Linked DNA regions of Homo sapiens. The protein of the gene in region 1 purifies or fractionates together with the protein of each later gene. This does not show direct contact. Each region holds a gene or a part of one and is shown in the gene's direction. Other genes may lie near its edges.

The links.
Region 2: the proteins of PTPN12 (region 1) and FLNC purify together in Homo sapiens (affinity purification with mass spectrometry, with the first as the bait; one large-scale study listed by BioGRID). This does not show direct contact.
Region 3: the proteins of PTPN12 (region 1) and PRPSAP1 purify together in Homo sapiens (affinity purification with mass spectrometry; one large-scale study listed by BioGRID and IntAct). This does not show direct contact.
Region 4: the proteins of PTPN12 (region 1) and ARHGAP10 purify together in Homo sapiens (affinity purification with mass spectrometry, with the first as the bait; one large-scale study listed by BioGRID). This does not show direct contact.
Region 5: the proteins of PTPN12 (region 1) and PLOD2 fractionate together in Homo sapiens (co-fractionation; one large-scale study listed by BioGRID). This does not show direct contact.
Region 6: the proteins of PTPN12 (region 1) and NUSAP1 fractionate together in Homo sapiens (co-fractionation; one large-scale study listed by BioGRID). This does not show direct contact.
Region 7: the proteins of PTPN12 (region 1) and PAICS purify together in Homo sapiens (affinity purification with mass spectrometry, with the first as the bait; one large-scale study listed by BioGRID). This does not show direct contact.

The regions. Positions count from the first base shown.
Region 1 is NC_000007.14:77,599,795-77,603,294, forward strand, and holds part of PTPN12 (tyrosine-protein phosphatase non-receptor type 12), read left to right. Parts: intron 1-869; coding exon 870-1,012; intron 1,013-3,500. UniProt on the Homo sapiens protein: Dephosphorylates a range of proteins, and thereby regulates cellular signaling cascades. Dephosphorylates cellular tyrosine kinases, such as ERBB2 and PTK2B/PYK2, and thereby regulates signaling via ERBB2 and PTK2B/PYK2.
Region 2 is NC_000007.14:128,843,906-128,847,405, forward strand, and holds part of FLNC (filamin-C), read left to right. Parts: coding exon 1-8; intron 9-98; coding exon 99-361; intron 362-752; coding exon 753-1,350; intron 1,351-2,084; coding exon 2,085-2,258; intron 2,259-2,395; coding exon 2,396-2,558; intron 2,559-2,839; coding exon 2,840-3,000; intron 3,001-3,500.
Region 3 is NC_000017.11:76,347,417-76,350,916, reverse strand, and holds part of PRPSAP1 (phosphoribosyl pyrophosphate synthase-associated protein 1), read left to right. Parts: intron 1-2,335; coding exon 2,336-2,388; intron 2,389-3,500. UniProt on the Homo sapiens protein: Seems to play a negative regulatory role in 5-phosphoribose 1-diphosphate synthesis.
Region 4 is NC_000004.12:147,861,088-147,864,587, forward strand, and holds part of ARHGAP10 (rho GTPase-activating protein 10), read left to right. Parts: intron 1-3,500. UniProt on the Homo sapiens protein: GTPase-activating protein that catalyzes the conversion of active GTP-bound Rho GTPases to their inactive GDP-bound form, thus suppressing various Rho GTPase-mediated cellular processes. Also converts Cdc42 to an inactive GDP-bound state.
Region 5 is NC_000003.12:146,077,685-146,081,184, reverse strand, and holds part of PLOD2 (procollagen-lysine,2-oxoglutarate 5-dioxygenase 2 isoform 1 precursor), read left to right. Parts: intron 1-1,927; coding exon 1,928-2,069; intron 2,070-3,260; coding exon 3,261-3,323; intron 3,324-3,500. UniProt on the Homo sapiens protein: Forms hydroxylysine residues in -Xaa-Lys-Gly- sequences in collagens. These hydroxylysines serve as sites of attachment for carbohydrate units and are essential for the stability of the intermolecular collagen cross-links.
Region 6 is NC_000015.10:41,335,881-41,339,380, forward strand, and holds part of NUSAP1 (nucleolar and spindle-associated protein 1), read left to right. Parts: intron 1-3,500. UniProt on the Homo sapiens protein: Microtubule-associated protein with the capacity to bundle and stabilize microtubules. May associate with chromosomes and promote the organization of mitotic spindle microtubules around them.
Region 7 is NC_000004.12:56,439,260-56,442,759, forward strand, and holds part of PAICS (bifunctional phosphoribosylaminoimidazole carboxylase/phosphoribosylaminoimidazole succinocarboxamide synthetase), read left to right. Parts: intron 1-2,403; coding exon 2,404-2,601; intron 2,602-3,500. UniProt on the Homo sapiens protein: Bifunctional phosphoribosylaminoimidazole carboxylase and phosphoribosylaminoimidazole succinocarboxamide synthetase catalyzing two reactions of the de novo purine biosynthetic pathway.

The DNA.
Region 1 (3,500 bases):
GTATGGTTTGCTTAGATTCCGAGTATTGCTCTTTCTGTTAAACACCTGCAATAACCATTCTCAAAACATTTGACATCAGTACTCCTTTACATTCTTCAAAGTTATTGAGGATCCCAAAGTTTTTGTTTCTGGGGGTTGTATCTTTCAGTATATACTATATTTGAAATTAAAACTGAGAAATTTTTAAAAAACATGAATACATAAGCATATATTGTATTGGCTGTTAAAGAATAAGGCACGTAACATTTTAGTATTATTCTGAGAATTATTTAAAGCTCATAGACTCCCTCAAAAGGGTTGAGGGGAGGGGGTACCCAGACCGTATATTGAGAACCACTAATCTGTAAGAAGACTAGTGAGTTTGGCATTGGACAAATTCATCTCTCCATTCTTTTTCAGTTTAATGTTCTGTTAGTCTTCTGATTACAATGAATACTACTCTAACCTACTCTAACATGGTGCTTACGGTATATTGCTCATCCATTTAATAGTGTAGATTAGTTAAATAGTATATATAGTGTTATGTTTACAGTACATGCTCTGGAAGTAGAACTGCCTGGTTTAGAGCCCACACTTGTCACTTCTTAGGAAAGTTTGGGCAAGTTATTTTATCTGTATATCTCAGTTATAAAATGAGGATGGTATTAACAGTACTTTCCTCATGGAAATTAAATTGTTACATGTGAAGCCCTTAGGTATTTGGCATGTGTTTAACAGTCAATAAGTGTTGGCTATTATTTATTTGGGTTTTTTTAAAAGCAGTGCTAAATGCCACACAAATTTCTTAGAAATGGCAGTTTAAATGAGCTGTGCAACTTTAAACTTTGCAAAGTATTTTCATAATTGTTGACTTTCTGTTTTTCTTGAAGGAATCTCGTAGGCTGTATCAGTTTCATTATGTGAACTGGCCAGACCATGATGTTCCTTCATCATTTGATTCTATTCTGGACATGATAAGCTTAATGAGGAAATATCAAGAACATGAAGATGTTCCTATTTGTATTCATTGCAGGTACAAAAGAATTTCCCAAGTTTATAAATACATTATTTAAGTTTGATGTTACACAAGGTTTTATTTCTGCATTAATATGTTAGTAATCTTGAATTTCTCCTAGCCTTGATACAATGTTTGGGACTAGGGCCTTGTAAGTTGATGTGGTCTCATTTGGTTGACAGACCGTTTAGAGTATTGTTGCATTAAAACACAGGATCATCTATTTGAAAATAGTATTCACATGGTGGGAAGCTATAGAACATACTCTTTTTACTGTTCACTGATTAGAGCATATAATCTCAGATCCTCATCATACTCTACTTTCTAAAGTCAGTATGGTAGTATTTTCTTTTAATCAATTTCCCTGAAACAATGACCAAGCAATTTTCATTCCTGATAAACACTGACATGAGATTTTTAAAAACAGGATATTGCTCTGATGCCCAGGTTGGAGTGCAGTGGCACAATCATAGCTTACTGTAAACTCAAACTCCTGGCCTGACGTGATCCTTCTGCCTCAGCTTCCCAAGTAGCTAGGACTACAGGCATGTGCTACCACACTGAACTAATTTTTTTTAATTAAAAAAAATTTTTTTTAAGAGACCAAGTCTTGCTCTGTTGCCCAGGCTGATCCGAACTCCTGTCCTCAAGTGATTCTCCCACTTTGCTCTCCCAGAGTCTTGGGCTTACAGGCGTGAGCCACTACGCCTGGCAACATGACTTTCTTTTTTTAATATATGTAAGATGTACATACGTAGGTCTTATTGATCTAAGATATCATCAATTCTAAGACACACCATTATTATATATATTAACAGTAAAAAAATCACTGCCAATTATAAGGGGACAATGTCATTTGTAAGAAGCCATTGGTGGTAAGATACATACCAATCTCAGAGCTGTTACATTGAGATGAAAAAGTGTGTTTTAGTTTGATGAAAAACTAAATGCTGTTTTTATTCTTGGGGAACATCAGTTTCCACGTTTGCACCACTTCCTGTCATATCATGAAATTTTATAATTTATAGCTACTGAAAAATTTAAAGCCGGAAGCAAGCATTCTTGTAGTAAAGTAATAAAAACTATTGATACACATTTACTAGACATTTTTATTATGTTTTATAGTAGATTACTTCATTATAAGGATTACATAAAATTCAATGATTACTGACCTAGTTAAGCTACCTCTGAATGTGAAAGGACAAGTATAGGTGCACCTACTTTAAATTGCACAATATAAATCTTTTCATTTATTCAAATAATATTTGAAGTTCAGTTAGGTTTTGCAAAATTACTCGTTTGGATGTGTTAAGAAATCATGTAAACTCTTCCTTTGACTTTGGGGGAATGAACATGAGATTTGTTTATTCTTGGGGGGCAGTTAATTTTGTATTCTAGAAGGGGGGTTAATGTATAATATATTTTAGCTAAGAGAAATCAGTTTAAGATAACCAACTTTTCTTAATCTAACATTTTGGCTTATTTCTGTCATCTGGTCATTCTCATACAAATAATACAAAGCTAAATATACATAATACATATGCACATATATGTATATGTATACATTATATGTAATACATAAAACAAAGCTAAATTTGTATTATGGATTTAGGAGTGTAATGGAAAATACCCCTTTAAGAGGAAAAGCACAAAACTGAATTAGTCAAGAAAATAATAAATGTTTGCAATAAGTGTCATGACCGGGTATAGTGGCTCAGTGCTTTGGGAGGCCGAGGCAGGATGATTGCTTGAGCCCAGAACTTTGAGGCTGCAGTAGACACCAATTACACTACTGCACTCCAGCCTGGGTGACATAGTAGACCCTATCTTTTAAAAAAAAAAAAAGAATATAGGTATCATTATAATATGGGTGATACAGGATATTTTGAAACCTAATTTTTGGAATTTCATTATATAGGTATGGGTTTCTACATAGTAGAAGCTACTTGAATCCTTAGACAGTTTTTCTACTCTGAATTTTTAGTTTACATTAGATTCTTCTAAAGGCCTTACAGTCATAGTACTTACTTCATAAGACTGCTATCAATTTATTCCTCTAAGGGACTTGTTATCTGCATTCACATTTGTTATAAAAAGTAAATGAGATTTTTCAAACTTAAGAGATTTATTTTTTATTATTTACATAGTTAAAATATTTTTTCAGTGGAGTTGAAGCATTGAAGATAGTTTTCTTATTCACTTGGTTTGACCGTAATGCTCATAATTAACGAAGTAAAAGGGCTACTTTTTATTCATGGGCCAGGAAAGTAACTTGCTGGTGGAGATGTGGGAATCAGTTAACAACTTGGTTCATTAAAACTATTTTTTTCTGTGGTTAATTCAGTGGTTAGTTGACCATTTAATTAAGTAGGATTGACCAGTTAAAAATAAACAATATGTTTAATTATAGAATTAAAAGATAAAGAAATTGCTTTCACTTTGACTTCTTATAAGTTAGTTAAAATAATTTCCTGTTCAATCATAAATCCATTTGTATAGGAAGGCT
Region 2 (3,500 bases), about 51 Mb from region 1:
TAATAGCAGTAAGTGGGGCAAGAGCCACCCTGGGAGTGAGGGGTATTCGGGTAGGGTGGACCGGAGTCTCCTCATGGTGTCACTTGCCCTCCACGCAGAGGTGGCTGTGGGACAGGAACAAGCATTCTCTGTGAACACACGAGGGGCTGGCGGTCAGGGCCAACTGGATGTGCGGATGACTTCGCCCTCTCGCCGGCCCATCCCCTGCAAGCTGGAGCCAGGCGGTGGAGCGGAAGCCCAGGCTGTGCGCTACATGCCCCCGGAGGAGGGGCCCTACAAGGTGGATATCACCTACGATGGTCACCCGGTGCCTGGCAGCCCGTTTGCTGTGGAGGGTGTCCTGCCCCCTGATCCCTCCAAGGTGAGGAGATAGGAGCTGGTTGGGGCTGGGAGTTGGGGACTTGTTGGGAAGATAGATGAGTCATAGGGGGCAGAGGCCAGAGGGACTTATGTGCCTGGAGTGGGCACAGCCAAGGGTGTGGGGCTGAGGCCAGCCCCACCCCACCACCTGCCTTGGAGACAACTTAGCTATTAAGAGCCTGGCCTTGGAGTCACACCTGGGCTTGAATCCCAGGTCCACTAACTGGGGCAAATTGCTTCATCTCGCTGCCTCAATGTCATCACCTGGGATTGTTATAAGCACTCAGTCCACAGTAGCAGCCACAGTTGGAGGTGATGAGTTGGGTGGGGGCCATGAAGGCTGGGATGAGGAGGCCAGGTGCAGGGAACCCACAACCTGCCTCTTCCCCTAGGTCTGTGCTTATGGCCCGGGTCTCAAGGGTGGACTGGTAGGCACCCCCGCGCCATTCTCCATCGACACCAAGGGGGCTGGCACAGGTGGCCTGGGGCTGACCGTAGAGGGCCCCTGCGAGGCCAAGATCGAGTGCCAGGACAATGGTGATGGCTCATGTGCTGTCAGCTACCTGCCCACGGAGCCTGGCGAGTACACCATCAACATCCTGTTTGCTGAGGCCCACATCCCTGGCTCGCCCTTCAAAGCCACCATTCGGCCTGTGTTTGACCCGAGCAAGGTGCGGGCCAGTGGACCGGGCCTGGAGCGCGGCAAGGTCGGTGAGGCAGCCACCTTCACTGTGGACTGCTCAGAGGCAGGCGAGGCGGAGCTGACCATTGAGATCCTGTCGGATGCCGGGGTCAAGGCCGAGGTGCTGATCCACAACAACGCGGATGGCACCTACCACATCACCTACAGCCCTGCCTTCCCTGGCACCTACACCATTACCATCAAGTATGGCGGGCATCCCGTGCCCAAATTCCCCACCCGTGTCCATGTGCAGCCTGCGGTCGATACCAGTGGCGTCAAGGTCTCAGGGCCTGGTGTTGAGCCACACGGTGAGTGGACAGGAGGAGCCAAGAAAGGTCAAGTGGCAGGTGCAGGAGCTGGGTAGTCCGTGGGAGGGAGGGAAGAAGAGCTGAGAGCTGGAAGAGCAACCTGGGGTGAAGGGAGGGCTCTCGGAGCAGCCCCAGAGTCCTTACTGGCCCAGAAACCCCAGAGAAGGAGTGGAGGGGAAGACCGGGGGTGGAGATTGGCCTCTGCTCTTGTGGCAAAACTGCACCTGCCTCTGGGCGTTTTTCTGGAGAGATCTCTTCTTTCATGTGCTTAAGGGGTACCCTGATCCAAAAAGCTAAAACTCTGCTCTGGACGGGGGCACGGGGAAAGCTTTGGGGTAGAGGATGACAAGAGTCAGAAGACAGTAAGTGGGAATGGGCCATCTGCCAGGGGCCAGACCCTGGCTAGGCATGGGCCACGGCAGAGGGATGCAAGACCCAGGCCCACAGCCTGGTGGGTGACTCAAGTGAACAGAGAATGTCACTACATGGAGAAGGGAGTGAAGGCAGAGGCTGGAGCTCACAGAGGTGCAGGGGAGGGTGTGGGGCCCAGGCTCCGATTAGAGGAGCAGCCTGGGAGTTGGGGAGTGGGAGAGGAGGGGGAGAGGAGGGTGAGAGGAGGGGAAGAGGAGGGGAAGAGGAGAGGGAGAGGAGAGGGAAAGGAGGGGGAGAGGAGAGGGAGCATCTGTGTGAAGGCTGCCCCCACCCCTGCTGAACACGCCACCCCTGGGCTCCAGGTGTCCTGCGGGAGGTGACCACTGAGTTCACTGTGGATGCAAGATCCCTAACAGCCACAGGCGGCAACCACGTGACGGCTCGTGTGCTCAACCCCTCGGGGGCCAAGACAGACACCTATGTGACAGACAATGGGGACGGCACCTACCGAGTGCAGTACACCGCCTACGAGGAGGGTGAGGGCCGGTGGGCCAGGCTAGTGGGCAGGGCTGGGCAAGTGGGCAGGGCCGGGATCTGATGATATTGCCCTCGGGGCAGGAGGGGTGGTGGGGGCGCACACTCCCTGATTGATGCCCCTGTGGCTGGCTTCCAGGCGTGCATCTGGTGGAGGTCCTGTATGATGAGGTCGCTGTGCCCAAGAGCCCCTTCCGAGTGGGCGTGACCGAGGGCTGTGATCCCACCCGCGTCCGAGCCTTCGGGCCAGGCCTGGAGGGTGGCTTGGTCAACAAGGCCAACCGATTCACTGTGGAGACCAGGTATCCTCCCCCTTTGCTAGCCTAAATCTGTGACCACCCTTTCCCAGCCCCTGGCCCTCCTCGCTCATCCCTCTGCCTGGGCCTCAGCCCCACCCCATCCTCTCTCAGGGGTGAGGCAGGAGCAGACCCCCTCCAGGACCCCAGATTGGCCCCTGTAGCTCGTTTCTCCTCAGCTGGGTCCCCAGCGGCCTGCCCTCTTTCCTCCCTGTCCCCCCATTCAGCTACTCCCTCATCCTCACTCACTGGTCTTATGAAGCTGATGGGGGGATGTTATCTCTCAGGGGAGCGGGCACCGGGGGCCTTGGCCTAGCCATCGAGGGTCCCTCGGAAGCCAAGATGTCCTGCAAGGACAACAAGGATGGTAGCTGCACCGTGGAGTACATCCCCTTCACTCCTGGAGACTATGACGTCAACATCACCTTCGGGGGGCGGCCCATCCCAGGTGTGCAGAGAGAGTGGTCGGGGTCTCAGGGAAGACAAGGGAGGGTGCAGGATGCTCGCCCCACAAGGGGGAAACTGGAAGGAAGTTGGGTAAGAATGTTCATAGAGAGGACAGCCTAGAGTGGGTTGGGGCCGGAGCCCGGCCAGAGGGAGGACGTGGAGGAGGCAGGCAATGAGGGTTGATGTGACAGCCCCCCTAGTCAATCACAGGAACACACTCTGGCCTCCTAGCCCCTTGTCTGGAGCTCAAGACCTTGGCTTTGCAGGTCCACCACTCACTGTGTGTCCAGAAACTCAGACACAGTCCACTCCTCTTGGCGGCTCAGGCCAGCCTTGGGCCTTCTTGCACGCATCGTCTGCAGAACTCCCCTGCCCTCTGCAGACCCAGCTGCCCGGGCAGGTCATGTCTTCAAATATTGTATGACTTGGGACTGCTGAAATTGGAAATTTTTTCCCTTATCTAATTTCCCATCTTTTTATTATTTCAGCCACAGTGTCAGA
Region 3 (3,500 bases), on another chromosome or scaffold:
TGGGATTACAGGCTGCACCACCACACCCCGCTAATTTTGTGTTTTTAGTAGAGACGGGGTTTCTCCATGTTGGTCAGGCTGGTCTCAAACTCCCAACTTCAGGTGATCCACCTACCTTGGCCTCCCGAAGTGCCGCCTTTACAGGCATGAGCCACTGTGCCTGGCCTACCTTTTTAACCATTTTTAAGTGTACACTTCAGTGGCTTTAACTACATTCACAGTGTTGCACAACCATCACCACTATTCATTTCCAGAACTTTTCATCATCCCAAACAGAAACTCTGTACCCATTAAATACTAAGTCCCCATTCCCTGGTAGCCTCCATTCTACTTTGTCTCTATGAATTGCCTATTCTTGGGACTTCATACAAATAGAATCATAGCGTTTGTCTGTGTCTGGCTTATTTTCCTCAGCATACCTTGTCCAAGGCTCCCTCATGTCATAGCACGTACCAGAATTTATTCTTTTTTTTTTTTTGAGACGGAATCTCACTCTGTCGCACAGGCTGGAGTGCAGTGGCACGATCTCTGCTCACTGTAAGCTCCGCCCCCTGGGTTCACGCCATTCCCCTGCCTCAGCCTCCCGAGTAGCTGGGACTACAGGCGCCCTCCACCACGCCCGGCTAATTTTTTGTATTTTTAGTAGAGATGGGGTTTCACCGTGTTAGCCAGGGTGGTCTCGATCTCCTGACCTCGTGATCCGCCCGCCTCGGCCTCCCAAAGTGCTGGGATTACAGGCATGAGCCACTGCGCCTGGCTGCAGAATTTATTCTTTTTTTAAGGCCAAATAATATTCCATTGTATGTGTATACCTGGCTGGAGTTTTGTTGTTTTTTTTTTTTGAGATAAAGTCACCCAGGCTGGAGTGCAGTGGCACAATCTTGGCTCACTGCAGCCCCCGCCTCCCAGGTTCAAGTGATTCTCGTGCCTCAGCTCCCAAGTAACTGGGATTACAGGTGCCCACCACCACACCCAGCTAATTTTTGTGTTTTTAGTAGAGATGGGGTTTTTCCATGTTGCCCAGGCGGGTCTCGAACTCCTGGCCTCAAGTGTTCTGCCCACCTTGGCCTCCCAAAATGCTGAGATTACAAGCATGAACCACTGCGCCTGGCCTGGCTGGAGATGTTAATTTTATTTTTTTTATTATTATTTTTTGAGATGGAGTTTCGCTCCTGTTGCCGAGGCTGGAGTGCGATGGTGTGATCTCGGCTCACGGCAACCTCTGCCTCCTGGATTCTGGCAATTCTCCTGTCTCAGCCTCCTGAGTAGCTGGGATTATAGACGCTCGCCACCACACCCAGCTAATTTTTGTATTTTTAGTAGAGATGGGGTTTTATTATATTAGTTAGGCTGGTCTCGAACTCCTGACCTCAGGTGATCCGCCCACCTCAGCTTCCCAAAGTGCTGGGATTGCAGACGTGAGCCACCGCACCCGGCCTGGAATATTTTTAAATAGATTATCTTACATCATATCATTTCACTTGTAAAAAGAGTAATGCTTACTAATCAGGACTTAAAACCTCACACTACTATTAATTCCTTAATATTATGTAGTATCTAGTCTTTGTCCATATTTCTCTGATTATTTTTTAAAATGGCTTTTTTTTTTTTTGAGACGGAGTTTTGCTCTTGTTACCCAGGCGGGAGTGCAATGGCGCGATCTCGGCTCACCACAACCTCCGCCTCCCGGGTTCAAGCAATTCTCCTGCCTCAGCCTCCCTAGTAGCTGAGATTACAGGCATGCTCCACCATGCCCAGCTGATTTTGTATTTTAGACGGGGTTTCTCCATGTTGGTCAGGCTGGTCTCAAACTCCCGACCTCAGGTGATCCGCCCGCCTTGGCCTCCCAAAGTGCTGGGATTACAGGCATCAGCCACCACGCCTGGCCAAAAATGGCTTTTTACACTTGGTTTATTCTAATTAGGATCCAAACAAGATCCACACCACATTTGGTCAGAGTGCTGAAGCCTCTTTCCTTCTCTATGCTTTTGATAATTGAGGCATTTATCTCTGGTGTGTGTTATTGAAATCATTGCTTGTAACCAAGTATTTGGAAGTGATTTTCCAAGAAAATTACTATTCAAAGAACAACGCGCACCAGACATTAACCATGGGTTGTGAGCTCTGTCTGGTAAAGCAGTATGTTACAACGTGGTGAGCTGCTTATGGAGTGACAGCAGAATTTTAGTTTAATGAATTAGATTTTCTGAATTATTTTTTGGAAAGAATGGCAGCTTAATTATTTGAGTCTTTTTATTAGACATATGCATATGAACTGGAATTTTTTTAAAAAGAGTAATCTTAATTTCCCTTTTTTGTTCTTTTTGATCTATAGGCGCCTTGGTGCTGAATTGGGGAAGTCTGTTGTATATCAAGAGACCAATGGAGGTAAGTTAAAATTATTTCTTTTTTTTAAAATTATTTTTTATTTATTTAGTTTTTTTGAGACAGAGCCTCACTCTGTCGCCCAGGCTGGAGTGCAGTGGCATGATCTTGGCTCACTGCAACCTCTGCCTCCCAGGTTCAAGCAATTCTCCTGCCTCAGCCTGCTGAGTAGCTGGGATTACAGACGCCCGCCACCACACCCGGCTAATTTTTGTATTTTTAGTAGAGATGGGGTTTCACCCTGTTGGCCAGGCTGGTCTCAAACTCCTGACCTCAGGGGACCCTATTGCCTCGGCCTCCCAAAGTGCTAGGATTACAGGCATGACCACTGTGCCCAGCCTTTATTTATTTATTTATTTATTTATTTATTTTTATTAAGATGGGGTCTCACTATGTTGGCCAGGCTGGTCTTGAACTTCTGAGCTCAAGCAGTCTTCCCACCGCAGCTTCCCAAAGTGCTGGGATTACAGGCGTGAGCCACCGCACTCGGCTTCCACCACGTTATTTCTAAAATGCAAATATTTTTTCTTACTACTGCTTCCTTACTCCTACCCTGTAGGCTGGGGTCCAGTCTTTTTAGCAATCACATGGGGCCCTTTGGGAATCCAGATTCTACCCCTTTACCTGCCTCATCTTTGATCCACCCATTACCACATCTTGTGTGCTCTGACTTTGGAATACATCTTATATCTGACCCTTTCTCACAACCTCTGCTGCTCCCACTTAAGTCCAGCCTGCCGTTTGCTGCTTGCTAGACACCTTCCAAAACAGACGCCATGGCCTCCCCGTGGCCACTCCTGCCCTGCCACGGTTTTCTTCACACAGTAGCCAGCAGTCTTTTTAAAACAAGTAGATGAAACCCTTCCCAACCTTAAATCTTCCAGTGGCTTTCCTGTCACTGCTAGAATAAATTCCAGACTCTTCAGCGAGTAAGAAATGAAATCCAGAGTCCTGCAAGTCCTGGCCCCTTGGCTCCCTGACCTCCTGTCTCTCTCTTTCCCCTCACTCTGTCTGCTTTCTTTTTTTTTTTTTTTTTTTTTTTTTTTTGACGGAGTCTTGCTCTGTCACCCAGGCTGGAGTGCAGTGGCATGATCTTGGCTCACTGCAACCTCCAC
Region 4 (3,500 bases), on another chromosome or scaffold:
CTCGGCTTGTGCTACTGGCCTGGATCTCATGCCTGCCAAGGGCGAGCCAGGCACGGAGTGGCGAGGAGTTCGTGAGTGAGTTCAGGGTCATCCGGCCACTGTGCACAGCCGGGCATGCCGACTGTGGTGGGGCAGGCAGCTCCAGGCACAGGCACTGGCTCCGTGCAAGGCTGTGGCTGGACCAGGCATACTGCAGGTCGCTTCCATTGTGGGCACTGGGAACACGGTGGCACCCGGAAACTTGGAGACACCAGGAACCGCAGAGCCCCAAAGAGGATGTCACAGCCCTGGCTTAGGGAGCCCCTAGGTCTGGGCTCCCCGAAGGGCCGCAGCTCTTCTCTCCTTCTCGTCGCCCACAATGTAGTGAGCAGGGGAGGGGGAGGATCACCCCTGTTTGTGTTACAGCTCTTTCAGTCTGGCCATTCCTTGGGTCCCAAGTTCTTGTCCCACATCCAAGAGGAATGAGGTATGGAGACAACTGGAGGGTGAGCAAGGTACAGGGGAACTTCATTGAGCAACAGAACAGTTCTCAGGAGACCTGAAGTGAGTAGCCTTTTTCTGCAGGCAGGTCGACGTAATGAGTGTCCAGCTCTCACTGGAGAGGAGACCTGTAGTGCATAGCTCCTTTCCACAGGCAGGTCATCCTGACTAGTGGAGGAGACCCCCAGAGGGTTGCTCCTTCCAACAGCTGGTAGTCCCCATGTCTTTCTGAGTCTGGCTGAGTCCAGAGTTTTTCTGGGCTCAGAAGGGAGGAAGTGTGCTGATTGGCCCATGCGCAGCCATGAGTGGGCCTGGAAAAAGCACCGTAAGTTTTCATCCCAGGCTGCAGACTCCACCTAGAACTGGCAGCCCAGCGGCTCCCAGGCTTCAGGCCATCCCTGGCTTGAAGCTGGGGTTTCACCAGGGACCTGTCTGTCCCTTCCCACCTAGGAACCTGTCTCCCGCAGCTGTCAACATGTCATCCATGGCGCCCAAGGTATTTGTGCCAAGAGGTGCCTGCAGGCCCCTGTTAAGCTGCTCTCAGCCCCCTGGCCTCCCTCCTGTGCTTGTTGGCATCCAAAGTCCAGAGGGGGCCGAGCTGGAGGTTGGGGTTACCAGGGGCGCTGGCATGTCAGAACCACCCTGTGTGCATGCATACCCGGCTGGGTGGCAACAGTACCTGGGCTTGGCTACAACTTTGCTCCACACTGCATCAGGCGCCGGGAGCCGGGAGAGGCCAGGGAGCAGGAGCAGGCACTTCTTGAGCCTGCTGGTGGGGCAGTGGGCCTTCGCCGGCCCCCAAGAGCACAGGGATGCCCTGGTCCAGAGCTGTGGCTGCACGGCTGCAGCTGTGTCTGGGAGCATGGGGCTCCTGCCCTGATAACTCTGTAGAAGTTGGGGCTCCTGCCTGTTTCTGGCCCCCGCGGGCACCATGGAGTGCGCAGCCCTGGCTGCACTTTGCCCTCTGCAGCTGGTGTCCTCACAGCGGCTGCTCCAGACTGGCCGCTGCTGCCATCATTGCCAGTAATCCCAGGGATTCTGGTGATTTAATCACAGAGCATGTGGCACAACAGTTCTGGATTTTCAGAACATTAAGGGGGTGGTGATAGAGGTTGACTGGTAATGCAAGGGTAATTACAGTAGCAAGAACAACCAGGAGAGAGAATTTACTAAAAGATAAAATCAAATTGATAAATCTGATGCTGGTATAAATTTCTTCAAGAGCCTTTGCAGTAATAACAAATGAGGAAATCACCCTTCTTATGTCTTTATTAAATAGTCAACAAAATTACAGTGTTTTTGCTGGGAGATGTGCCAACTAACTGCTGATGGCTGAACTATCAAACTCTGGTTATTGGAGGCACAAAAATATGATTCAGATGAGTGTTAGGTAGAAATTCTCATTTTAGCTTAGTAATATATATTAAAGTATTTGCTGAAATGGTTTTTATTACATTTTGAAATGTGTTTCAAATGTGTTAAATGCTTTTCAAAAACAACACATTTTTGGTTATAAAACGTGAATAAAATTTCAATAAAATGTATGATTTTATTTTAAAGTCTATGGCCCAGTGGTATTAAGTACATTCACATTGTTTTGCAACTGTCACCACCATGCATCTCCAGGGCTTTTTAAAAAATCTTCCCAGACTGCAGCTCTGTACCTATTAACAATAACTCTCCATTCTCCCCTGCTCCAGCTCCTGGCAGCCGTCGTTCTGCTTTCAGTTTCTATGAATTTAACTACTCTAGGTGTCTCATGTGAGTGGGATCATATAGTATCTGTCCCTTTGTGACTAGTTTATTTCACTTAGCCTGATGTCCTCAAGGTTTATCCATGTTGTAGTATGTATCAGAATTTCCTTCCTGTCTAAGGCTGAATAATATTCTGTTATACATATGGATTGGCTACATTTTATTTACTCATCCATCCATCCATGGGCATTGGGGTCACTTTGCCCCCTGCTGCTATGAACAGGGGTGTACACATATCTGTTCGAGTCTCTGCTTTCAGTTCTTTTGGGTATATGCCCAGCTGTAGAATTGCTGGGTCATGTGGTAATACTATTTTTCATTTGAGGGAAAAATTTATTTTAATTTTTTGCTGGGAGTTGTGCCTGTTAACTGCTGGTGGCTGAACTATTGAATTCTGGTTAATGAAGCCACAAAAATATGATTTTGAGGAGTGTTAGGTAGAAATGTTCATGTTAGCTTAGTAACACGTTATGTTTCAATATTATTTTACTTAAAGCACTATTTTTCACAGTGCTTGTACCATCTTGCATTCCCACTAATGATGCACAAGGGTTTCAGTTTCTTGACATCCTCACCAACACCACTACTTTTCTTTTTTGTACAGTAGCCACCCTAGTGAGTGTGAGGTGGCATCTCCTTGTGAGTTTGATTTGCATCCTAATGATGAGCGATGTTGAGTGTCTTTTCACATGCTTATTGGCCTTTTGTATATCCTCTCTGGAGAAATGCCCAGATAAATATTTTTAAGAGTAAAATTAGCTAAGTTAGGAAAAATATCACATGATACCTAGTAAGAATGGTTTCTTGGACATGAGTTCTCTCTCCACTATTCTCTGTGGAGTCCTGCTCTTCTCCCAGTTCCTTTCTAGTTAGGCAAGCTAAGCTGGAAGCTTTTTTTGGAATAGCGTCCTGACCAGCTGGTGCCCCCTTCTCTCCCAGGGGATCAGACGTTCTGAGGGCCGCAGATGGGCGTCCAGCCCTGGCCCGCCTTTGAGAGCCGGGTTCTTGAGATGCTGCCATGGCTGGCTCCTTCTCACTTGCCGCCATCACTCCCTGAGCGCTGAGGTGCTGGGCCCTTTCTCAGGCAGACTTTATTCCTAGAGGATTTGTTCATCGAAATGTTTGTTGATTGTGATTGCATGTGGTTCAGCCTTGGGGCATCAGTTGTGGTTGGGGTGAGTTTTTCAAGAAGAGAAGTCCCTTTGATCTTCAGTTCTTGGGGGTCAACTTCAACAAACAGAGTAGGAGTCACAAGCTTTTTCTGC
Region 5 (3,500 bases), on another chromosome or scaffold:
TATATTTATTTCAGAGACAATGGTTGATTACTAAAAATAATCACAATTGAAATAGTTTTGCTAAGGTAATATTGGAGAAGAATGTCATTCTTTTTTTCATACATATGATGGACCAGAGTGACTAAGACATTACATGCTTTGCCTTAGTTCTCAAACATGTCAGCCTGATTAAAAAGGGGCAGTATACTCTCAGGACTAAAAGGATGTGCCCTTACATTTAGAAAAAAAAAGGCACACGTTTCTGTTCAAACAGTTGAGTGGTAAAAAGATGTGTTGCTTGTGGAAATAGTAATTGGTGTGGAAAGCTTCAATCTGAATGATGTAAATACAATAAAGGTTTTTGTTAGCTGCAATTAAAATGCACAGTGGAGGAGAAAAGACTATTAAGATCGTATTCTGTTGTTTCTGTGCAGTTGTATTGACTCTGGGTGAGTTGTATAGACAATATACCTGATTGTATCTTTGGGCACATCACAAATGAGGGTTTGTGAAAGTAGAATGGAAAATTTGTTTCAAGTTGCTTTAGGCATTGGTGATTTTCTGTCCAACCTCCTGTCATTCTTGTCTAAAGTATAAGGAAAAAAATATGGCAGAAGCTTTTGATCTGGAATACACTTCATGTCCAAAAGCTACACGAAGGAGCAACTGTGTGTGTGTGTGTATGTGTGTGTGTATAAGTTGAAACACTGAATAATTCCCCAGAGATTAATTTCTGAATTTAGCTGACACGTTGTATACAGTAATTCCCCTTTATCTATGGTTTTGCTTTCCATGGTTTCAAGTCTACTGTGGATTGAAAATACGAAGATATGTTGAGATAGAGAAAGTGTAAACATTCATGTAACTTTTATTACAGCATATTGTTATAGTTGTTCTATTATTGTTGTTAGTCTTACTGTACTTTATGTATAAATTAAACTTTATTATAAGTATATATGTGTAGGAAAAAACGTAGTGTATGTGTAGCGTTTGTTACTATCTGCTTTCAAGCATCCACTGGGGTCATGGAATGTATCACCCTCACATAAGGCGGGGACTGCTGTACTCCTTAAGGCATTTTTCTTTGAGGCTAGTCTAGTAAGACATAATATCATATTTCCGTTAATATCTAACTGCATTTCTTGGTCAAGATCTTGCCTTGATGTTCTCTAAAAGAAAGGCGCACAGTCTTAGGGGCAAAACTTGTTTTGCAGTTTTTATGAAATCAGTCATGTTCAGAGTGAGAATATAGATGTGGGAAAGGATGCAACGTTCATGTGCTCCCAGCTGTATTTCTTCATGTTTTCCTTTTTCTATAAAATATTTAAGATGGCTTAATGAATGGTAAGAGAATATAATTTTGGAGAATTTTAGGCTATATTCAGTGGTATTTTGGTAAATGTGTAACAACTGGCTTTTGGAGGTGGAGGATTCCCTGATTTAAAGTGCTTGCCCATTTGTTTGGTGTAAATACTTCTACCATGGCTGATTTCAAGTTTCCAATGTGAAATTACTGAACATGGACTTGGCAGAAAAAGTTAACTTTGGGGAGCCAGTATGAGCTGGGTCTAGTGCACCACTGGTTGTATGTTATGATTCATGCTATCAAATTCTTTAATTTTAAATAGAAACACCGTCTATACAATAGATTATAATAGTCTAATTGTAACAACTGATTGAGATATGATAGCTATAATACAAATGCCAAACAGATACCAACCCAAAATTGAAATGTATCCAAAGGGGCAGTGGTTTATCTCCTAAATCTCATTAAATATAGTGTATACAATGTAATCTTATATATATATCATTGAATATATTTGTATGTTGATTCAATAATTTATGTATACAAAATCTAAACACAAAGCATTTATTTTAAAAAGGTAAAAATGAAACTTAAAATTGTTTGTATTTGTGGTATATAAGAATGTCTTCTCTTTACTTTCAGAGGAGTATGGAATGTCCCATATATGGCTAATGTGTACTTAATTAAAGGAAAGACACTCCGATCAGAGATGAATGAAAGGAACTATTTTGTTCGTGATAAACTGGATCCTGATATGGCTCTTTGCCGAAATGCTAGAGAAATGGTAAGATATGCAGTGATGGCTTGCTTGAATGTTCTTATAAGATGGCTTGCTTTACCAGTTGGTGTGTCACTGTGTTTTGATGCCCTTTGTCTTGCTAATTTGTAAGTACTAGCCAATTTTTTTGGTTCTGTGTTAAAAAATTTGGGAGTAATTTTGGAGATAATTTAACATTTACTTATAGAAATGGTATGAAAAATGTTAGTTTTTGTGCTCGGGCTAATTCATAGGCAACCGAGTTGGATTTCAGTAATAAAGATGTATTTGTTACAAATCAGCTTTGCTCTTTTAAGAATACATCTTTAATTTGAAATTCTATAGTGAAAACTTGACCTAATTAAAATTAATTAGATAAGCTTCGATGAAACAATATTTCCAGATTTAAGAATATTTTTGTTCTAAAATTAATGTCCACATTTTCTCTAACTAGGTAAAATTTTAAAATTATTATTAACTTCACATTCTTAGAAAGCAGGATTATTACCACCAAACTAGTAGAAGTGTTGAGATACATAGTGTATTTACTCTAAATAAAATACTAATGATACCTTGCTGCACTACAAATGTACTTTTATTATAAAACTTAAAATGACTAGAAAATAATTTTTCAAAATGCATAAACATGGCTTAGAATATATTGATATGATTTTTGGTTTTAGAAATGATGGGGCTATTTTATTTCCGATTTCCAAATTTATATAAGCAATTGTGATTTGATGAAAAGTCAGAAAAGTTGGCAAGTATTTTTTTCTTAGTTTAACAAAGCATGTATTGTTTGAATATGTTTGTTTTCTCTACAAACCTGTGTGCATTATTATTGAATATCCTCAGTACTTGTGATAGTATTTTGTGCTCATGTTTGGCTAATTTGACTCAACAGCGCATCATGGAATGGCCTCTCTTACTCATTTTTTCCGTTGTCTTATGTGTCTAATGAAAGTTCTGCTAAGGAATGAGCTTAGACTTATGTTTGACCCCACCACACCTCCCAAAAAGAAAAGAAAAGAAGGGCTGAAAGAGCTGGAGATGTTTCTTTGTGTGTGCTATAAGCTTTGCTTGTTCTGCATGTTGTCTATGAAGGACATTTCAGAATGTTAGCTTTTGATCAACAGCTGCTATTATTTTTATTTACCAAAGAATACCTGAGAGAGCGGGTGTACAGGTCAACTTACCCAATGCTTCTCTTCATTTTAGACTTTACAAAGGGAAAAAGACTCCCCTACTCCGGAAACATTCCAAATGCTCAGCCCCCCAAAGGTGTTATTTTTACTTATTTTATTTATTTTTGTTTATTTAATATTTGATATAGTATATTGCCTAGTAGTAAAGTTTCTTTAAGGGCCTTATTTGCATTTAGCTTGGTAAAATGTTGATTTTCATCAGTCATCTGTGTGTTTGCGTGTTTTGTGTGACTTGGGCATGGGTCTTGTGTGA
Region 6 (3,500 bases), on another chromosome or scaffold:
GTATATTTGTACTAGTAAAATTTATTTAAATTGTAATGTTTTATTTTAATCAAATCTTGATAATTTTACTAGTATGATATTATTAAAAATAAATTTATGGCCGGGCATGGTGGCTTGCACCTGTAATCCCAGCATTTGGGAGGCCAAGGCAGGTGTCTCACCTGAGGTCAGGAGTTTGAGACCAGACTGGCCAGCATGGCAAAACCCCATCTATACTAAAAATACAAAATTTAGCCAGGCGTGGCAGGGGGCACCTGTAATCCCAGCTACTCGGGAGGCTGAGGCAGGAGAGGAGAATTGCTTGAACCCAGGGAGGCAGACGCTGCAGTGAGCCAAGATCACACCATTGCACTCCAGCCTGGGCAACAAGAGCGAAACTCCGTCTAAAAATAATAATAATAATAATAATAATAATAAATATATAGGAGATAATATTCCCTCTTTTGAGAGACTTCTCTTAATGGTATAGCAATTTGAAGGAGCCAGTTATTAATGTTAGTGGGGCGACTGGTCCTGTTGTCACTCATGCCCTCACTTCCTTTCTTGCGAGCTTAAATTACAAACACTGGCACTATTTCCACTTCCTTGCACCTCCCTATACTCACCTGGCAAAACCCAAGCCTGATTAAACCCAGCTATGTGCTTAATCTTTGCCTATACCTCTGCAGCTAACTCTAGTTGGAGAAAACACCTAACTTTGTTGAGCGAACTTATTTTAAATATGCAACGCTAAACCTTAATATGGGCATTTGATCCTCCTCCTTTTGGTTTTTTTTTTTTTTTTTTTTTGAGATAAGGTCTCGCTCTGTTGCCTAGGCTGCAGTGGCACAATCAGGCCTCACTGCAGCCTCAACCTCTCAGGTTCAAGACATCCTCCCACCTCAGCCTCCTAAGTAGCTGGGATTACAGGCACGTGCCACCACACCTGGCCCATTTTCTTCTTAGTCATGAACTTTCCTACTTTTGAGGATAATTACTTTTTATCATCTTGACTCAACTTGGTTCCCTTCCCTCCCTTGATGACTTTACCTCATAGGTCATGGGAAAATAGATGCAATCAACAGAAAACTGCCTTATCGTTCAACCACCAAATCCCCCCCTTTTTTTCCTTTCCTTTTCTTTTTTTTTTTTTTTTTTTTTTTTTGAGACAGGGTCTTGCTCTGTCAGCCAGCCTGGAGTTCTCTGGAGTGCAGTGGCACAATCAGGACTCACTGCAGCCTCAACCTCCCGGGCTCAAGCAATCCTCCCACCGCAGCCCCCTGAGTAGCTAGGACTACAGGCATGACCACCCTGCCTGGCCAGTGTTTTTTTGAATTTTAGTAGAGATGAGGTCTGACTATGTTGCCCTGTCTGGTCTCCAACTCCTGAGATTCAGCGATCCTCGCGCCTTGGCCTCCCAAAGTGCTGGGATTACAGGCGTGAGACCCTAGGCTTGGCCCCACCACCAAACCTTTTAGCCACCCTGCATCTACATCCACATACTCTGCTTCTTTGCCTGTCTAAGGGCAACCTTTCCATTTATGCTGAAGATCCTGGGCCCTCTTGCTTCCCCTAGGACTACATTCCTACAATTAGAGCCTCTCTCCTCATTAATTTCTCCACTCTGCTAGCTTATTTGCCATAAGGCATGCAATCATGTTTTACTATCACCCATCTTTTAAAAAAATAAAAAAGCCAAAATCCTCTCCTGATCCCATGTCCTCATTCCATCTACTGCCCTATTTCTCTGTTCTTTTCTACTGAAATTGCTTTATTAAGGTCGCCATCTTACAAAGCTTGTGTTCCCTCTCTCCCCTCACCTGTGCCTATCAGTAGCATTTGGCATGATTGAACATTCCCCTCTGCTCCAGGCACTTTCTGTTCTAGGCTTTGATATTTCACGCTGTCCTGCCTTACTAGCACTTCTTTCTAGTCTCCTTGGTTGGTTCTTCATCTGCCAGATCTCTAAATGTGGAGTGCCCCCAGGGCTCTCTTCCTGGTTGTCTTTTCTCTAACTATGCTCTATCCCTCGGTGATCTTATCCACCCCATTTTTTTTTCTTTTCTTTTTTCTTTTTTTTTTTTTTTTTTTGAGTCACAGTCTTGCTCTGTCACCCAGGCTAGAGTGCAGTGGCGCAATCTCGGCTCACTGCAACCTCCACTTCCCAGGTTCAAGCGATTCTCCTGCCTCAGCCACCCGAGTTCCTGGGATTATAGGTGCCTGCCACCATGCCCAGCTAATTTTTTTGTATTTTTAGTAGAGACAGGACTTCACCATGTTGGCCTGGCTGGTTTCAAACTCCTGACCTCAAGTGATCCACCTGCCTTGGCGTCCCAAAGTGCTGGGTTTACAGGCATGAGCCACTGCGTCCGGCCCATTCCCATAAGTTAAAATTTACCCAAAAGCTAATGCCTCCCAAACCCACATCTCCAGTAGGACCTCTCTCTCCCCTGGGATGCTGACTCGTGTATTTAAGTGCATTTTCAACAACACGGTCAGGTCCAAGCATTGACAGTCTCTTCCCCATCTCAGTACATTGTTCAGGCCCAGTTTGGATCACCCTGGATTCCTCTCTTCTTCACCCACAGCCATCCATTCTTGTCAGCACCTCCTCCTAAATAGACCTGAAATCTGACCTCTGGGCACCATCTCCAGCGCTGCAAACCTGTGCCACAGCACTCTCATCTCCTGACCACTGCCTCAGTCTCCCTATTGGGCTTCCTGCCTCAACTCTTACCTCACAATAGTGTTCTCTTGGTAGTTGGAGTGATATTTGAAACTTAGGGAAAAGAAAAAAAAGAGAGAGAGACCAGGCGCCAGGCGCAGTGGCTCATACCTGTAATCCCAGCACTTTGAGAGGCCGTGGTGGGTGGATCACTTGAGGCCAGGAGTTCAAGGCCGGCCTGGCCAGCATGGCAAAACCCCGTCTCTACTAAAAAAAAAAAAAATACAAAAATTAGCCAGGCGTGGTGGCATGTGCCTATAATCCCAACTACTCGGGAGGATGAGGCACGAAAATCCCTTCAACCTGAGAGGTGGAGGCTGCAGTGAGCCAAGATCACGGCACTGCACTCCACCCTGGGCGACAGAGCGAGACTCTGTCTCCAAAAAAAAAAATAAACTTAGAACGTGTCTTTCTGCTCAGTGCCCTCCAATGACTTCCCTCACATCTAAAATAAAATCTAAACTCTTTCCAGTGTAATGAGAGAAACTTAGTTTGACCCTGATTTGGAGGGAAATTTTTTTAAAAAGAAAATAGCTAAAATTGGAGAGAAGGAAATTTCATTATGGGCCACATATTAGGTGATATTAGGAAATTATTGCTTTTCCTGAGTACACTAATGCATTAGAGGATCATGTGGGGAAATCTCTTATTTTTAGGAGATGTGGCTGATATATTTAGTGGTAAAGAATCATGATGTCTGGAACTTATTTTCAAATTCTTTCACAAGAATTATATATTAATATAGAGAAACCAAATATGAGACAATGCAAATGACTATTGAATCTTGGTGGGAAAT
Region 7 (3,500 bases), on another chromosome or scaffold:
GGAGTCTCCCTCTCTTGCCCAGGCTGGAGTGCAGTGGCGCCATCTCAGCTCACTGCAACCTCCGCCTTTCAGGTTCAAGCGATTTTCCTGCCTCAGCCTCCCAAGTAGCAAGGATTACAGGCGTGCACCAACACATCCGGCTAATTTTTGTAATTTTAGTAGAGACAGGATTTTACCATGTTGGTCAGCCTGGTCTTGAACTCCTAACCTCAAGTGATCCGCCCGCCTCGGCCTCCCAAAGTGCTGGGATTACAGGCATGAGCCACTGTTCCCGGCCCACTGTTCTTTACCCTTCCCTCTCTTTTATCCTCCATGATGAATTCTCAAAGCTACTATCTTAAATATCTTGCATCTTTGCCCACTACTCTTTCCTTAGACCAAGACATTTCTTTTTCTTTTCCTTTTTTTTTATTGAGACAGGGTCTCACTCTATCACCCAGGCTTGAGTGAAATAGTGCAAATCTTGGCCCACTGCGGCCTCGACCTCCCCAAGTAGCTGAGACTACAGGCATGCACCACCATGCTGGGCTAATTTTTGTTTTTTTGGTAGAGATGGGATTTTGCCCTGTTGCCCAGGCTGGTCTTGAACTCCTGAGCTAAAGCAATCTGCCCTCCTTGTCTTCCTAAAGTGCTGAGATTACAGATGTGAGCCACTGCACCTGGCCAGACGTTTCTTGTTCAAGTTACTGCAACAGCATCCTAACTGGTCTTCCAAGCTCTAGTTTTTGTTCACTCACCCCTTCCTCCCTTCATTGTCCATACAGAAGCCGTAATGATCTTTCCAAATAGCGTTTTGCTTTAGCACTTAAAAGCCTTATAGCTCTTCTTGGGTTAAAGTCTAAACTCAATCAGCATGGCTTGTGAAACAAGAAGGATGTGTAGCAAAATGGAAGGGAAGTTTTCCAGGCCTAGGAAAGAAGAGATTGTCAGAAGCTAGGGGAAGATTGTATAAGAATTAAAGATGTTGGAGTTCTAGATAGGAAATAGACAAATAAGAGTTTGGAGCAGTAAGCCAGGGCTGTATCTTAAAGGGACTTTTAAACCATGTTAATGAGTCTAGACATTACATTAGGGAGGGTAGAGATTCATCCTCTAAATTAGGTGCCCTACAGTGGCAACTGTTAACTAAATTACAACTACTTTGTTTAATGGTTACCTCCACTAGCTGGTGATGTGGCCCCTGTCCAACTCTTAAGTCTTGTCTCCTGCCATTCTTTAGCTGCAGCCCCCACCCCTTCCCCTGCCCAACAGCAATGTACATATACCCAGAGCTCCAGCTCCAACCAGACTGAAGTTCTGCAATCCACTTTGACCACCTTGTATTTATTCATCAACACTACCTACCCCTTTCTCTCCTTTGGCTAAATTTCGATGATTCTTCAGATTTCAACCTGTCACTTTCTTGTAGACTTCTTTTTCTAATGTCTAGACTAGTCCCATAGTCTGTATTTATTGCATTCTATTATTATGATGTCTTATTTAATATCAGCTCCCCTCAGACTCAGGTCTCTTGAGAGCAGGAATTATTATTTACTGGTACATCCCTTGGCACATGGATACACCGGGAAAATGTTGATACTGAGAGTGTTGTGGAAGTATGAGGGTTGATTTCTCTCTTTCGAAATTTTAAGTTCCTAAACATCTGTTATCTTTACTCTTTCTCTAAATCATCCTTTTGTGTACTTCTTAGGTTTTGTGACCAGCATCAAAATTGGATTCCTTTGTGCTCACTTCCTCACAATTTCTTACAACTGTTAGTGAAGAGAAAGGATTAATGGGGGCAGGGACAGGATTAAGAAATAGAGAGGGATGCTTCCAAATGTGCTAACTTCAATGGGATGGCATGCCTCCTCTTGAATATTAACTTGAAATCAAGAAACTCATCTGGCTGAATGTTCCCATTTTGCCTACAAAAAAGCAAATATCAGCAAAAATCGCATATTTTTTCCTGCAAGATAGTTTAGATACTATACTGTGAGTGTGTCTGTGAAAATACTAGTATAGTTACATTACTTTAAGTGGGTCTTAATTAATTTTAATTCTAGTTCAGTTCTGCTATGAGAGGCAGGTTAATAGTGGAAAGAGCACAGGATTTGATGTCAGAGGAGTTAGGATTTTATCTACCTCTTATATTTCCTAACTGCATGACCCTCAACCCTTTTGATTTCTGCTTTACTAATTTCTACAATTATTTATGTAATTAAAATTCTTCACAAGATCATGTGAATCAAATGTGATGGTATGAGAAATACATTGTAGAGTATATGGTTTTATACAGATGATTTAATTTTTATTAATATTACTTAATCACTGTATATTTACAGATTAATTGTTCTAGGTGATTTAGTCTTCAGCATTCAGGAAGTTTCTGAATTTTGGTCTATTTCCATTTTATTTCCACAGTACTGAACATTGGTAAAAAATTATATGAGGGTAAAACAAAAGAAGTCTACGAATTGTTAGACAGTCCAGGAAAAGTCCTCCTGCAGTCCAAGGACCAGATTACAGCAGGAAATGCAGCTAGAAAAAACCACCTGGAAGGAAAAGCTGCAATCTCAAATAAAATCACCAGTTGTATTTTTCAGTTATTACAGGAAGCAGGTAAGCAGCTCCCTCAAAGTCTCTTCTCTCACCTTCTCTGGTAAGCATGTCGATGTCTTTCATGTGAAGTTGGCATTAATATGAACAACTTGTTTGCAGATGTCTCAAAAGCTAAGTGAATTTAAATCAAACCAAGAACCCTTAAACTTCACTATAACACCTTATTTGGTTTGGGATTATTAGTATCATTGAATTAAAAGGAATCTTAACAAGTTTGCTGTAATCTTTATCTGGCACATGCACTCTCTGTGCAGCTTACCTCTCCAAGGCCATCTTCACTTTAAGGAATTTAACTATGAAGGAAACCCATTTTAATGTTAAGCAGTTCTAACATGAAGAACTGAAATTTACTCCCTGTAATTCTATACAAATGGTCTTTGTTCTGCCTCTGGGAGATAATACAGAATTTCAAATTCCTCTTCCACTTGAAAGCCCTGAAAAGTAGTTGAAGACAGCAACCAAACCTTCTCCTCCTGCCATTCCCCAAGTGAGATATTTGAACTAAAACCCCAGAGCGCCCTCCTGTTCAAAAACTGAATGAAGGCTCTATTTTCAATAGAGAAATAGATTCAAAAGACCAAATGAAGATCAGAACATTGTGTGGTGGGTATTTGAAGCAAAGGGAAGGAAATTAGGATAAAGGGGTTTTCTGCAGGGATTCAGTCAGTTGCTGGTTGGTCTGTAGTATATGAAATTTCAGCTAGGAAAAGATTTGAACTCTTGCCACACAGTGTAAATAGCCTCATTGCTTTGGATCATTCAACCTACGAAACCTTACCTATGAAATAAAAGCTTTTTCTTTATCATTCTTGCCAATTCTAATTTTATAATTTAATAACTTTCCTTACTTTTAATTCCAATATTCCCAGTTGCCCTTTCATTTCTTAGAGTTTCTGGTA